2 linked regions of the Homo sapiens genome follow. The protein of the gene in region 2 purifies or fractionates together with the protein of the main gene of each other region. This does not show direct contact. Each region holds a gene or a part of one and is shown on either strand. Other genes may lie near its edges.

The links.
Region 1: the proteins of IRF2BPL (region 2) and VGLL4 purify together in Homo sapiens (affinity purification with mass spectrometry; 5 studies listed by BioGRID and IntAct, with this or other methods). This does not show direct contact.

Annotation. Positions count from the first base shown.
Region 1 is NC_000003.12:11,641,932-11,645,839, forward strand, and holds the start of VGLL4 (transcription cofactor vestigial-like protein 4), read right to left. Parts: upstream 1,985-3,908; 5' UTR 1,588-1,984; coding exon 1,506-1,587; intron 1-1,505. UniProt on the Homo sapiens protein: May act as a specific coactivator for the mammalian TEFs.
Region 2 is NC_000014.9:77,026,772-77,030,679, forward strand, and holds the start of IRF2BPL (probable E3 ubiquitin-protein ligase IRF2BPL), read right to left. Parts: upstream 1,938-3,908; 5' UTR 1,022-1,937; coding exon 1-1,021. UniProt on the Homo sapiens protein: Probable E3 ubiquitin protein ligase involved in the proteasome-mediated ubiquitin-dependent degradation of target proteins. Through the degradation of CTNNB1, functions downstream of FOXF2 to negatively regulate the Wnt signaling pathway.

The sequences.
Region 1 (3,908 bases), on a different chromosome or scaffold from region 2:
TTTAAAATATCGTATTACTTGTTGGCAAAGACAATACAACAGAAATTGCCTCAGAAGTTTTTCTTTCTTGTTGGGGGAAGCGGGGATGGTTAAAAAAAAAAAAAACAAGAAAAACAAAACCCTGACTACAATGTGTGAATGTCACGGGAAACAAGCCCAGCAATGGCTGCTTACGGCTTTCTAAAGTCGGCTGCCTTTTTTAAGTGAGTTCAGAAGCAAGATGTTACTTAACACATCAGATGCAAAGAAAGAAATTCACGAAAATTCTCATAGCAGGAACTAGTAGGAGTAAAGAAAAACAAATACTCTTTTTAAAAAACGTTAAATATGAGATCCTCATCCATAGAGTTTTAAAAAACAACGTGAATGAGGGTTGTTGTTGTTTTTTTTCCTTGAAGGGGAAAAATACTCTTGAAAGGGTGAGTTTTCAACTGATTAGGAAACAGGCCTGAAGTTTTTAGATTAAAAAAATACAAGTGAATCACCCTCCCAAGTTTTTGTAACTGTTTTCTTTTTCAAGAGAAATGTCCCGTGTATTATTGGAGAAAAAATGGAAACTGCTCCTGCTGAATGAGAAAGAGAAGAGTCCCGGATGTGTGTGTGGTTACAACAGAAAACACTCTTCCTGCCAGGCCGAACTCCCCCGGAGATGCCCTCGGCGGCAGACCCAGGGCCATTGCCACTTTTTCAAATCGCACGTAGAGGATGTCCGAGGGCTTAAGAAATAGATTTTTCTCTGACTGCTACCAGAGACAGTTGGAAATACAAGACAGTGGGGGAAGCACCTCGCGGGCAGTAGGAGGTAATAAATAACAGTTCGGCGCGGCTCTCTCTTTTTCAGGGCAGGCTGGGGGTCGGGGTGTTGTGTAATCGCTCCCACAGGGAGCGGAGCGCGAGGAACACCCCCCAGTGTCAGCGCTCCCCGGGCTGCACAGGAAGCGCCAGCGAGACAAAGAGCCCGCCTGTGCTCGCTGACACGGTGCCCTTCCGGCCCCACGCGGGAGAGGGACATTCTCCGCTGTTTGGGACGCTCACTCGCGAGCACAAAAACTCGCTGTAACTTTGGCTCCCCCTCCGTGAGCTGCAGGGCGCCGTGGCCCACAGCAGGGTACAGTAGACGGTGCAATCCTTACCAGCCCCTCCCCCAAAGAGGCTCAACTTTTACCGGCGTCCTACAAGTCCTTCCCCTAAAGACAATATTAACGGAAATCAAAAATACATACATTTTAAAGAGTTAAAAATGTGAGGCGCGAGTACGTTGCAAGCAACGAGCAAACTTTGAAGGGTTTCTACTTCACTGCCTCCCCGTCCAGCCCCCTCCACCGCCCCCCGCAGCCTGAGATCCGAACACACTCGGTGCCGAACCGAACCTAAGAAACGCCGGCCTTTCAAGTGCCCTACACCCCGGAGGAGGACAGCGGGCGCTTAGAAGGCAGGCACCCAGCACACTGAGGAGGAGTGGCCGGGACGAGCAACGGGCAGTAATTCTACAACGGGACATCTACCTTCGTAGCACAGAATGCCGATATTGTTGTTCATCTTGTCCAAGTACTGATAGTTCAACAGGTCCATCTTCATAAATAGCATTTATTGGGCTAGCAAAGAAAACCAGCTCTTTGCTTTTGCCCCAAAAGAGTTAAGTTTCAAAAATCAATTGTTGCTGAGTAGCTCCTGGCTCTTCAACTTCACAAAGGCAGAGGCCCAGCCTCAGACTATCAAAACAAAGTATGCAAAAGTTAAAAAAAAAAAAATCAGGCACAAAAAAATCGAGCTCACACGAAACCCTTCAAGGGCTTACTGGTAGACGGTGTATGTACTGTATCCCCGATCGAGTATGAAAACAGCGTTTCAGAAGTCCTTACAAGTCCTTCCTGGAAATGGAAAAGAGTGAAAAAGAGAAACGCGCAGCCCGTTTCCTAGGACAAAGCGGCGCCGGCCCCTCTCACAGCCCGCTGCAAGCCGGCAGCGCTGACATGAGGGCTATGCTTGGCATGACTCCTATGCCGCCGCTTCCTCTTCCCGCAGGAGGCCGAGCATGCTCACTGCGCCGCGCTGCCGAGGCAGGGAGGGCTTCTGCACAGGATCAGCCTCTCAATGTAGCAAGTGTTGGAAAGAAAGAGAAAGGGGAGGGGGAGAGACTCTAGAGACGGGGCCTTGGCAGAGTGGCTCTTGACAGGAAGCAGCCAAGCCGCTGCAAAACCGTAGGAGGAAAAAAGAAAACCCAGGAAGTTTCTTTTTCAGGAGCTAAGTACAAAGTAAAAAATCCATCATGGAAGCAAACTCCCATGGAATGCAACTTTCGTGAAACTTCATGTTGGGGTTTCGGAAACCCAAAGTGCTAGTGATGCATAAGCCATATATATATATATAGTGTCTTTGTTTCTTTTAAAGATTGTTTTATAATATCCATTTACACTTTAACTGGATATTTAAATTTCTGATGTTAATGTTACATATAGCTTCTTCCATAATCCCCATAACAACTGAGATGGACAGGGCAAGGAGGGTATCACCCTTTCACAGCAGAGGAAACAGGTTCAGATGGATTAAATGACTGGCCCACAGCCCCCAAAATAGTTGACAGAACTACTTTTAAAGTGTTTTTTCCCACCTAATGTTATAATTTTATTTAAAAAAACGAGGGGGCCGGGTGTAGTGGCTCACACCTGTAATCCTAGTCGAAGCAGGCGGATCACTTGAGGTCAAGAGTTCAAGACCAGCCTGGCCAGCATGGTGAAACCCCATCTCTACTAAAAATACATAAATTAGCCTGGTGTGGTAGCGCACGCCTGTAGTCCCAGCTACTCAGGAGGCTGAGGTGGGAGAATTGCTTGAACCTGAGAGGAGGAGGATGCAGTGAGCCAAGATCGTGACACTGCACTCCAGCCTGGGCAACAGAGTGAGACTTTGTCTCAAAAAAAAAAAAAAAAAAGAAAAGAAAAAAAGGAGACAAGGAGAGGAGAAGAGATGGAAGAGTGTTTAAGCAAATAGGGCTATAATATCAAAAATTAAAAGTGTACTTGAAATTATAGAGGGAAAGGGTAAAATTATTTTCATTTGGCATGTATGTCACCCACCTGTGTGTAAGAAGCTAGTGGCATGCAGCTGTACTATTTGCTATTGGAAGAACTTGGGGCTTAAACTTTGATTACCCAGTGCCTAGCACAACCAAGTTCAGGTGCCCAAAAACTGTTTACTGAACGAGTGAACCACTGAATGTTCAGTTTTCAGCACATCAAGAACGTGTTAACAAAATAGAAAAAAAAAAAACAAAAACTAAACATTTGAATTACTATTCTAAAAATATATTTTTAATATTCCAAAATAATATTTGAATAAATAATTTGAAGGAGTTGTATGTTAAAAATCCAGCAATAGGCCAGGCGCGGTGGCTCACGCCTGTAATCCCAGCACTTTGGGAGGCCGAGGCGGGTGGATCATGAGGTCAGGAGATCGAGACCATCCTGGCTAACACGGTGAAACCCCGTCTCTACTAAAAATACAGAAAATTAGCCGGGCGCGGTGGCGGGCGCCTGTAGTCCCAGCTACTCGGGAGGCTGAGGCAGGAGAATGGCGTGAACCCGGGAAGCGGAGCTTGCAGTGAGCCAAGATTGCGCCACTGCAGTCTGCAGTCCGCAGTCCGGCCTGGGCGACAGAGCGAGACTCCGTCTCAAAAAAAAAAAAAAATCCAGCAATAGTTGCATTGGGTTTATTAGGCACACTCATGGCAAGGTGTTCTAATGAAATCTTACTTGGGAGTCCGGATGCGGTGGCTCACGCGTGTAATCCCAGCACTCTGGGAGACTGAGACGGGCGGATCACTTGAGGTCAGGAGTTTGAGAACAGTCTGGCCAACATGGTGAAACCCTGTCTCTACTAAAAATACAAAAATTAGCCGGGCATAGTGG
Region 2 (3,908 bases):
CCTGGTCTGTGCTCGACACCGAGCCGGGCCTCTTACCACCAGCACCCACGCCCACCTCTGCCACCGACGAAGAGGTCGAAGACGACGCGGAGGACGACGTGGCCGATACACCCGGGGTACCCCCGAGACAAGCGGGGCCCCCAGGAGCCCCTGGGGGAGCAGGCGTCGGGGGCCCACGGCTGCCCAGGGCGTGGGGAGGGGGTGGGGGGAGTACCGCAGCGCTGGCCGGGCCGTTAAGCAGCGTCTGCGGTAGCAGGTTGGGGGGCACGGTGAGCTGGGGGCCTCCGCCACCCCCCGGGTTGGGCAGCCCCGTAACCAGCCCACCGTGCGTTCCACGCCGAGACGCCACCGACGCCGCCGCTGAAGAAGAATTGGGGCTCTGACGGTTCAGCTCTGGGGGTCCCTCCTCTGGTGTTGGTTTGGGGAAGCCGTTTGGGCCCCCCAGGCCGTTGGGCAGTCGCGCGGTGTGGCTGCTGCTTCCCAGGCTCACCGGCGGTGGCGGGTACTCGAAGCGGCTGCGCTGTTCCACCGCAGCGGCGGCGGCGGCGGCGGCGGCGGCGGCAGCGCTTAGGCCGTAGCGCTCCAGGCCAGACGGGGCCGCCAGCACCGCAGGCTTGCTGGAACCATCAACGTGGTTGAGCTGTTGTTGCTGCTGCTGCTGCTGCTGCTGCTGCTGCTGTTGCTGCTGCTGCTGCTGCTGTTGCTGTTGCTGTTGCGCGGCGGCGGCGGCGGCCGCCGCTGCTGCCGCCGCCGCCGCCGCTTCCTTAGCCGACAGGGCCACTGTCTTGACCCCGACGGGCGGCGGCGGCCCGGGGGAGCGGCCGTCCTGGAAGCAGCCGTGCGCCCGCTTCAGCTGGCGCGCTGTCTCGATCACGAATTCGATGCGATCAGCGCCCTCGTAGTTGACGCAACCGCGGCATACGGGTTCCGAGAAGTCCCAGATCATGGCCCAGGGCATGCGGGGCAGGTCGCACAGGTAGCAAGATTGTCTCCGGGACGAGGACACCTGCGCCGCCGACATGATGCCTGCCCTGGGGAAGGTAGGCCCCCGCCCGGGCTGTCTCCGCGGCGCCTTCTCCTCCGGGAGGACTGGCCGGCTGGGGAGGGAGTCCGACTGCGGGGGAGGGAGGAGGGGGGGCGAGAAAGTTCTGCCCCAGGGGCTGGAGGGAACGCGAGTCTCCACCGCCGGCGCAGCGCCTCGCCGTGGGGGCTCCACCGCCCGGGCAGCGGACGGGTTCAGCCCTCTCTTCGCCCCCACCTCCTACTGCGGTTGACTCGTCGCGAGGGGAGCTCAGGCGCCTTCTTCCTGGTGCTGCAGACTTGGGCTGGAAGCTCCCGGCCCGAGGGGAGGGGGCGAGGGTGCCCGGTGGTGGCCGCCGTTGCCTCTTGGCCCCCTCCCCGGAGTGGCTGGTGCGTGGAAGCTCGAAAGGGGCTGTCTCTTCCTCTCCCCGGGGACCCCCCTACGAGCTGCGTCCTCTCCCCGACGGGCCCCCTGGGGCGAGGGCCAGAGGGTTCAGTGCCACCCGGTGCCCGGGTCCAATCTTGCTGAAGCCGCTGCTTCCCCGGAGGACCGGGGGAGGGGGTGGCAGCCGAGAAAGGACCTTCTCCCCTCCGCAGCGTCGGCCGTTCTGCTGGCGGCGACTGGGTTTGCACCCCGGAGGGAGCCGCCGCGGCCACTGCTTCCAGGACGCACGAGAGCAGAGGAGAGGAGTGCACGCACGCAGGCTCCCGCCGCCCCCAGGCCTGGCCGGCGCCCGGGCCGCCGCGGCTGGCGGCGCTCACGTTGGCTGCAGGGCGCTCGCGCGGCGCCTCGGCCCGGGTCGCATCCCTTCCCGCTCGTGCTCACGCTCGCCCGGAATGTGGGGTTGTGATTGTTACTCTACGTTCCGGAGGCGCGTCTCGGCGCTCCTGCTCCGGCTGCGGCTCGCGCTGTCCCCGGCTTGGCCGCGCGGGATGCCGCCCGGGCGGAGCGCTGACGTCACCGCCATGCTCTGCACCAGTTCTTCCCCCTCCCCTTTACACTTCCTCTGTGGAGCCCACTTGTTGCTCAGGCAAGGCGCATGCGCGGCAGGACGCCCAGATTCCTCCCAGCCGGCCCCTCCTCCGCGCCTCCGCCCTCCCCTCCCCCCTCGCCGTGTGTGTACAACAGCTGAGGCCCGGCGAGCTAATGCTGGAAGTCCAGAGCTGGGGGTGGAAATTAAACAGACGATGACCTTTCCTTTCCCTGCCGGGCATTCCCAAGTAAAAACGCATTTAAGAACCACTAGCGTCGTTTCCGATCCCTGCTCCCCACCCCACCCCCAAGCCTCGGCAGTGAATTTAAATGTCCTGTTTCAGGATTTTTCGCCGTGAATTTCGTATAAGGTATTAACCATTTCATCTGCGGTTGAACCTTATCCCCCCCGGCATGGATGTTAAATTCATCGCCACCACTGATGCCGAAGCACCTGCAAAATTAGCTGTTTTCCAATCTTCCAGAAATTGTCTTTTCTATTTGTTTTTGTGCCCTGATCTAGGAACCCGGGCTTCAACGATAGAGCTAAATGAATTCAGAGTGCGCTACCCTTCCCCCCAGCCGCACTTTAAAAATTTTGGCTGAACGTCTGAAGAAGATACGAGCACCCCGAGGCCTTTAAGGAAAACAGGCAACTGGCTGCGCACAGCTGCAGTTCAGGGCAGGGAGGGGGAGGGGCCGGAGAGGCCAAACAGGTGAGTGTTTTTTCTAGAGTTTGATTTTTAAAAGGTGGAGGCAGCATTTAATAATACTGATACATTTTTGTAAAGCACAGCCGCAGTTTTCAAAGTTCTTTCTCAGGCGCTGTGATCTCACTCCATGTTGCCCCAGAAGGCGGAACAAGGCCGTGATTTTTTTTTTTTTTTTTTTTTAAGACGGAGTCTTGCTCTGTCGCCCAGGCTGGAGTGCAAAATGGCGCGATCTCGGCTCACTGCAACCTCTGCCTCGCAGGTTCAAGCGATTCTTCCGCCTCAGCCTCCCAAGTAGCTGTGATTACCGGCACCCGCCATCAGGCCCAGCTAATTTTTTGTATTTTTGTAGAGACATGGTTTCACCATGTTAGCCAGCTGGTCTTGAACTCCTGACCTCAGGTGATCCTCCCGCCTCGGCCTTCCAAAGTGCTGGGATTACAAGCATGAACCACCACGCCCGGCCAAGGCCGTGATTTCTTCTGCCTTACAAGATCACTGCTCATCAGTATTGCTTATGGCACGATGGATATGTTGGTCATAGCTCTAGTTGGGGCATTTCTATTGATTATTCTAATTATTGGGTTTGCTTTTTTTTTTTTTTTTATTTCATGAAAACTGAGATAATCCCAGGGAAGGCTGGAGAAGGGAAAGCAATATAATGGGATTTCGGATTCTGAAGTGTGGCCCACCAGATTGAAATTTCCTCTCCATCACTAACTGGCTCTCCACCCTTAAGCTAGTTACCCACAAAATCTCTCTTTTCCATGGAAAAGAGAATGGAATGATAGCTCCCAGGTTGTTAGGGTTGTTTGAGATTTCAACTTCGGTTTTTTGTTTTTTTGAGATAGGATCTTGTTCTGTTGCCCAGGCTGGAGTGCAGTGGCACACTCGCGGCTGGCAGCAGCCTGACCTCCCAGGCTCAAGTAATCCTCCCACCTCAGCCTCCCTAGTAGCTGGGACTACAGGCATGTGCCATTACACCTGGCCAATTTTTTTGTATTTTTGGAAAGGGATGGGGTTTTGCCGTGTTGCCCAGGCTGGTCTCAAACTCCTGGGCCCAAGTGATGCACCCACCTTGGCCTCCCAAAGTGTTGGGATTACAGGCATGAGCCACCTCACCCGGCCTCAATTTGTTTCTTGTCATAAGAAGAGATAACGCTTACTTAGACTTGCCGTGGGACCTTAGTAAACTAGGTGGCTTT